Linked DNA regions of Homo sapiens. The protein of the gene in region 1 interacts with the protein of each later gene in a biochemical or structural test. Each region holds a gene or a part of one and is shown on either strand. Other genes may lie near its edges.

Region 1 (3,821 bases):
TGTCTCTACTGAAAATACAAAAATTAGCCGGGCATGGTGGCATGTACCTGTACTCCTAGCTACTCGGGAGGCTGAGGCAGGAGAATTGCTTGAACTTGGGAGGCGGAGGTTGCAGTGAGCCAAGATTGTGCCACTGCACTCCAGCCTGGGTGATAGAGTGAGACTCTGTCTTAAAAAAAAAAAAACAACTTCACACCCTTGTTTATGCTTTGGGATCTGCCACCTCCACCCAAGGTCTCAGAGGACAACTGAAGCGAAGGTGGTTCCAGCTTCGGAGGGCTATGCGCATGCTGACACTTGAGTGAGGAGGCACAGCAGGAGGAGGATGGACCAGAGGGTGGGGCAGAGGTCTGGGATGGGAGATAGGCACTGGGGAGGTGTCCCAAGGGACAGATGGCTAGCACAGGGAGAAGCTCTGGTCCCTGATGAGGCCTGACAGACACAGGAGAGATCATTAGAGAAGAGTTGGGAGGCTGGGCTCTGGTCCCAGCTCTGCCATCAACTTGCTGTGTGACCTTAGGGAAGCCACTTGCCCTCTCTGGGCCTGTGTTCATTCATGTGTTAAAAGAAGGGTTGAGTTAGTTGGGGACAGCAAACTTCTATAAAGAGCTGGAGCCTGTAATCCCAGCACTTTGGGAAGCCAAGGCAGGTGGATCACCTGAGGTCAAGGGTTCAAGACCAGGCTGGCCAACATGGGGAAACCCTGTCTCTACTAAAAATACAAAAAAAAAAAAAATTAGCTGGGTGTGATGGCGGGCACCTGTAATCCCAGCTACTTGGGAGGCTGAGGCAGGAGAATTGATTGAACCCAGGAGGCAGAGGTTGCTGTGAGCCAAGATCATACCATTGCACTCCAGCCTGGTGACGGAGCGAGACTGTCTCAAAAAAAAAAAAAAAAAAAAAAGCTGGAGAGTATTTTAGGCTTTGTGGGACACTTGTGGTCTCTGTCACATAGTTGCCTTCTTTTTCTTTCTCCCACAACTCTTTAAAAATGTAAAACCATTCTTAGCTCATGGGTCATTAAAAGCAGGTCAGATTTGACCTGCAGGCAATAGTTTATTAACCTCTGAGTTAGAGAAATGGACACAACCAGTGTACTGCAGAGCCCTTCCAGCAAGCCTCTTCCATCAGCCCAGCTCTACCTCTACCTTGGTCTAAACGCTAGGGTTCTACTTAAGAGAATTCTGCTGCTAAGAAGACAAAAAGTGGAACACTGGCCTACATAGCCTTGAAGAATCCTGCCAGTCTAGCCGGATGTGTGATCCAGGAAAAGGCAAAAACTGTTCTGGAGAGGGGCCTTTACAGGCTTCCATTTGTACTCCTTCTGGACTCCCACCCTCCTTGGGAAGCTCTCAGGAACTTTGCTCCCTGGCAACTTACCTGTACTACCTTCCATCAGGGGTAGCCAGCTCTTAACCATACCGTCCACCTCCCAGCCAGAAGCCCCTTCTTCGATTTGATCTATGCCTTGTGGAGAGAGCACTGGGCTGGGAGTATGTAGACCAAGGTTCAAGACACAGCTCTGTTGCCTCCCAGCTGGGAGACCTTAGGTAAGACACATCACCTCTATGTCTTATTTTTTTTTTAATGGGCAAATTTTATTATTTTATTTTTATTAGAGATGGAGTCTCATTATGTTGCCCAGGCTGGTCTTGAACTCCTGGGCTCAAGTGATCCTCCCACCTCAGCTTCCCAGAGTGCTGGGATTATAGGTGGGGACCACAGCGCCTGGCCTATTTTTTAAAATTTTATTCTTATTTTTATTTTTGAGACAGGGTCTCCCTCTGTTGCCCACGCTGGAGTGCAGTGGCATGATCAGAGCTCACTGTAGCCTCAACCTCCATGGCTCAAGTGTTCCTCCCACCTCAGCTTCCCGAGTAGCTGGACTACAGGCGTGTGCCACCACACTCGGCTAATTTGTAAATTTTTTTATAGAGACAGGGTATCCCTATGTTGCCCGGGCTGCTCTTGAACTCCTGGTCTCAAATGATTCTCCTGCCTCAGTCTCCCAAACTGCTGGGATTATAGGCGTGAGCTATATAATCTCACAACAACCTATGAGTTAGACAGTATTAATTACTGCGCCCAACTCACAGATGAGAAAAATTGAGGCCAAGAGAGGTTAAGTAACTTGTCTAAGGTCACATAGCTGGTAAGTGGATGGGCTGGGATTCAAATCCAGGCCTTCCTCTGCCCTGGAGCAGCACCAGCCTTCCTAGTGAGGCTTTATAAAGCATTAAGTACAATGCACATGTGTGGGGTAGGATGACTACATCCCCAGCTGCTGGATAAAACAGGAGGTTTTCAACAAACATTGATATAGAAGAGAAAACTAAGGCCGGTCTCTCCCCCCACCTCCTGTCCCTCTGGACAAGGGACCTACCTGAGGATGCTGTGGGCTCCATGATGCTAGGGTCGGTGCTGCTGCTGGGCTGGGCAGAGTCAGGGCTGGGGCAGAGGGTGGAGGTAGAGGGGAGAGGCTCCTCGGAAGGACTGTCCGGCTCCTGCACCTCCTCTGGGCACAGGTAGACTTCGATGGGCCCTTGGGTGCTCTTGAGATATATCTGCAGGTTGTCCTGGAGGAGGAAGAGAAGCCAGGTCATTGCTCTGGGCAGCTGGACACTTACACTTAGTGTGTATGGACAGACGCACGTGGCTGCTGCCATCCATGGGTGCAAGCTCAAACCCTGGGCTGGCACTGAGACCAACTCCATCTGGCCTAACTAAGGTGGACTTCCGCTGTTTCTGCTGTCTGGCCCTGAAGCCCACTTCTTTTAGGGGGAACACCTTGATTTTCCTGTGGGAAATCACTCTTCCCCCCACTCTCAGGTCATCTAGTTTTGGGGCGGGGGGGGGGGGGCAGCACCCTTCCCCAATGCCAGTGGGTGAGCTTGTGACGCAGCCAGGAAAGTTAGTGTGACATGATTGGTTCAGGATGGCCCATGGCTCAGGTGGATCCAACCAGCACTAGGCCCAGGACTTTTGCTGGACTTGTGGGAAATGGAAGCCCCCTTCCCACTGGGGTTGCTGAGCTGGTATCATAAAAGCTACCTCTACCACCACAAGGAGAGAGCCCACCTGGGAATGGAGTCAGCACAGAGAAAAGCAGAGAGATGAAAAGCGTGAGACAGACCTGAAGTCATAGTTTGAGCATCTACATCCAACCTTGCCAGCAATCTCTGAATCTCCCCCAGGACTTGTCATTTGGTTCCCACCACCCCTACCCATACCTCCCGCTGAAGCCAGTTGGACTTGGCTTTCTGTTACCTGTAACCAAGAGTCCTAGTATTTGGTCTTCCCACCCTGTCCCTTCCCTACCACATAACCGCAACTTAAGCCACAACTGATGACATGCATGCCATCCAGGCACATGTCCAGGTCTCCATGCCTGTACTCACACAGAACTGCACCTAGCAAAAACCCTATTCATTCTTTAAGACCTAGTTTAACTGTCCCCACCTGGGATACCTCCTCTAACTACCCTTTCTCTATGCTTGCAAAGCACATCTTCAGTCTATAAATGACAGCGTCTTTTTCCCACTAAGTCGTGAACTCCTCCAAGGGTGGGGGCAGGACCTTAATTGTCTCTGCAGCCCCAGTTCTTCCTTTAAATAAATTATTTCTTGAGTCCTTATAATATGCCAGGCTCTGGGCAAGGGATACAAGGTGAGTAGAACATTCTCTTGTGAAGCTTACACCCTAATAGATGAAGCAGAATGCAATCGTGTAATCATGCCAAATATACCTCAGCAAATGGAGATTAAATTAAAGGCAGCGGAAAAGCACAGGTGTTTATGAAGTCTGGAGGTAATCAGAGAAGG
Region 2 (3,821 bases), on another chromosome or scaffold:
GGTTGGGATACAGGGCAGAACAATTAAAATATGGTACTGAAGAGGCAAGAAGGGACCAAATGTTATATTAATGAGTCTTGTTACCACTTTTGGTACCAAAAACTAGGCTGTTCATAACTTTAAAATCTGTTGTAGCAATCTTTTTTTCTCCTTTAAAAGGATTATAGTTTTAATATAAATCTTAAGAGTAATTTTACTTTTTCTCCAATATTTCACATAATATAGCCAATCAATAGATGACTGGTAATTAGTGCCTCAACTAAGGTAGGACAGGAACAATGATTAAACATAAGCATGGATTACTGTTCTATCTAATACATTTATGAAGATTAATGAAAAGTTTGCATTTAATTGGATTTCTTCCTATCACTCCTTTTAAAATGCAATTTTACTTCTCTGAGGTTGGAATCACTTTGGCGTTAAAAGTCACAGTAGAAGGCATGCCAATAGTTTTCTCTTGGGCATTGGTTTTTAAAGTATAATTAAAAAATTATGGATCAGAACTGATGAAAGATTTACAAATTCTAGCAATTGAAAAAGTATCTAAGATTGGGAATAAATTGTGCAAGTGTGTTAATTGAACTGATAAATTGAGCTAATTGTCTTGCCCAAGATACTTAACTGAAGGGTACTGGAGTGAACCAAAGGGTTTAGAAAACATTGGTAGAATATGTAATCAAGAGGATTTGCAACAATGTTTGAAAAAATATTTTATATTGATAAGCATAAAAGATTAAAAGCAGGCTGGGCGCGGTGGCTCACGCCTGTAATTCTAGTACTTTGGGAGGCCGAGGCAGGTGGATCACCTGAGGTCAGGAGTTCAAGACCAGCTTGGCCAACATGGCGAAACCCCGTCTCTACTAAAAATACAAAAATTAGCCGGGCATGGTAGCAGGTACCTATAATCCCAGCTACTCGGGAGGCTGAGGCAGGAAAGTTGCTTGAACCCCGGGGGCAGAGGTGGCAGTGAGCCGAGATTGTGCCACTGCACTCCAGCCTGGGCGAAAGAGCGAAACTCCATCTCAAAAAAAAAAAAAAAAAAAAGATTAAAAGTAAAGCATATATGGGATGTTTGGAAAATCTTGGCAGTTAAACAGTTATTATAATACCTATTTTTATCTTAGGTACTGTTTTGTAGCATTGGCTATCTTTGTCTACATAAAATTCTAATAAATATTTTCTATGCACGAAATAGACCTAAAATCAAAGTTGAACAAATGTTGCAATTTTCTGTACCTCACTTTTAGATAGACCTTATTTATATTGCATGCGAACTCAGTGTATATTACAAAATTAAATGTATATTATACAAAAATTCTTTAATGAAATCTGTGCCTCTGTGTGCTGAGAGATGTAATGACATGTAAAGGATAATTGTCAGTGACTTTTTTCTTTCAAGGTTGAAAATCTTTCTAAACGATACGAAGAAATTTATCTTAAAAATAAAGATCTAGATGCAAGATTATTTTTGGATCATGATAAAACTCTTCAGACTGATTCTATAGACAGGTATTGCACATGGTATATTTGATTGATTTGCTTTAGATATAGGTTGATACTGATATAGGTAGATTATATAGTCTTTAGCTTAGTGACCTTTAGATATCATTTATAACAAATTACTTTCAAATGTCTTTATACAAAGAAAAGTTTAACAGTATTTTAAGCATATAACTTATCTACAAATATAGATTTAATGTGAATTGTGTGTCCTATAACAGTTACCTTTTTGCAGTTAACTGAATATAATTTTTTAAAATGTGCACCAAAAGATAATGGCTAAAGTAATTAGTTTCTTCAAATAGTGGTCTCTACCTTATTTCTATCCTTTCATATACTATTGCCTGCCTGGTTTATTTAAAAAAGTTTATACAAAAGTGTAGTCTCTGTTATTATCATGTAGAAACCTAAAATTGGAATGGTTGAGAGTGATTGTTAAAATTTTTGACTGATCATAAGTAAAGTTAATTTTGTGTCTTTAGCATGAACTCTTTTAATATGAAACTGAAAATATGCGTAATTTAGAAGTTAAACACAGTAAAATGTTTTAAATTTTATTTAAGTGGAAATAAAGTTTTTAGAAGGAATAATGCATTGAAAAACTTGAGTTTTAATGCTTTTTAATACTGAACAACTTGGTTATCAATACCACCAGGGAGAAAGCATCTGACTTTCACTTTTAAAAAAAGACTTAATGATTGGTATACCTCTTTGTCATAAACATAATGGAAAGAGACCCACAATTAAAAAGAGTAGTGAAAAATATTTTATTTAAGCAGCAGCTGGGTCATCTATTTTCTATCCTATCTATTATTGAGTTATCATTTTATATGATTTTATGAGACAACAGAAGCATTATACTGCTTTTTTGATGCATAAAGCACAAATTGTAAATTTTCAGTATGTGAATGACTTCACTTATTGTTATTTAGTTTTGAAACACAGAGAACACCACGAAAAAGTAACCTTGATGAAGAGGTGAATGTAATTCCTCCACACACTCCAGTTAGGTATGAATTTTCCTACTTTTAATTATATTATAATTTTGTTATTCATGGCTTTATAGTGTTTCAGATTTGTTCACGTTTCTTTATGTATTCATACATACATGTAAGAAATATATATTGAAGGCCAGGTGTGGTGGATCACACCTGTAATCCCAGCACTTTGGGAGGCCAAGGCGGGCAGATCACCTGAGGTTAGGAGTTTGAGACCGGCCTGGCCAACATGGTGAAACCCCGTCTCTACTAGAAATACAAAAATTAGCTGGGGGTGGTGGTGTGTGCCTGTAATCCCAGCTGCTCGGGAGGCTGAGGCAGGAGAATTGCTTGAACCCGGGAGGCGGAGGTTGCAGAGAGCTGAGATCGTGCCATTGCACTTCAGCCTGGGTGACAAGAGCGAAACTCCGTCTCAAAAAAAAAATGTGTATATATAATCTTTGTGTGCTGGGCATTTTACTGGTTGCTGAAGATATGGTTATTGGACCTAGTTTTGTCTGTTCTTAAAGAACATAACCTAAAATAGGAATGTGTTCCATTTCAGTAAATAAAAAAGAAAAAATTAAAGTATCACTATTTGATCTGCATGCAACCTTAAAGGATTAGAACTATTTTTTATGTCTTTTTCCTCACTCATTTCCCACATCAAAATCTGTTATCAAGGCTTGTTGAATAATCTACCTCCAAAATATTTCCTGAGTGCATCTACTTTTCTCCATTTCTGCTCTCACAACTCTTGTCCAAGACATTGTTCTCTTTCTCTTGGATTTTTTGCAGTAGCCTACTACCTGATCTTGCTCCTTCTGGTCTCATCATTGTTCCTGTCTCCTCACCATCAAAGATATTCTCCATAGAGCCCCCAGAATTTCTCCTAGAAATGTAAATCAGTTACATTCACCTTGCTGTTAAACCCACTGACTGCTTCCCATTGCAATTGGTATACAGTGCAAATTCCTTAACAATGCCTAAAAGATCTTATATGGTCTGGTTTCTGTTGCCTCTCCAACCTCATCTTGTTTTCTTTCTCACTCTGTGTTAGCCACACTTTGGCCTTCTCTGTTTCTTGGGCTTTCCAAGTTTTTTGAAAACCCTCGTACTTGATATTCCCTCTTCTTGAAATTTCCTCCTTTTCTTTCCATGGATTACCAACTGCTACTCTTCATTCAGCACAAATATTGCTTTTGAAAAGATATTTCTCTCTGAAGTATTTTATTATTTCTCATATCATCCTGTTCCATTCCTTTATAGCATGTATCCCAATTTATATTGATAGATTCATTTGTGTTTGCTTGCTTTTACTAATACCCAAAATAGCCTTAAAAT

Evidence for each region.
Region 2: the proteins of E2F2 (region 1) and RB1 form a complex in vitro, tested with the Homo sapiens proteins (2 studies listed by BioGRID and IntAct, with this or other methods).

What each region holds. Positions count from the first base shown.
Region 1 is NC_000001.11:23,513,952-23,517,772, forward strand, and holds part of E2F2 (transcription factor E2F2), read right to left. Parts: intron 2,577-3,821; coding exon 2,384-2,576; intron 1-2,383. UniProt on the Homo sapiens protein: Transcription activator that binds DNA cooperatively with DP proteins through the E2 recognition site, 5'-TTTC[CG]CGC-3' found in the promoter region of a number of genes whose products are involved in cell cycle regulation or in DNA replication.
Region 2 is NC_000013.11:48,366,095-48,369,915, forward strand, and holds part of RB1 (retinoblastoma-associated protein), read left to right. Parts: intron 1-1,399; coding exon 1,400-1,509; intron 1,510-2,432; coding exon 2,433-2,510; intron 2,511-3,821. UniProt on the Homo sapiens protein: Tumor suppressor that is a key regulator of the G1/S transition of the cell cycle. The hypophosphorylated form binds transcription regulators of the E2F family, preventing transcription of E2F-responsive genes.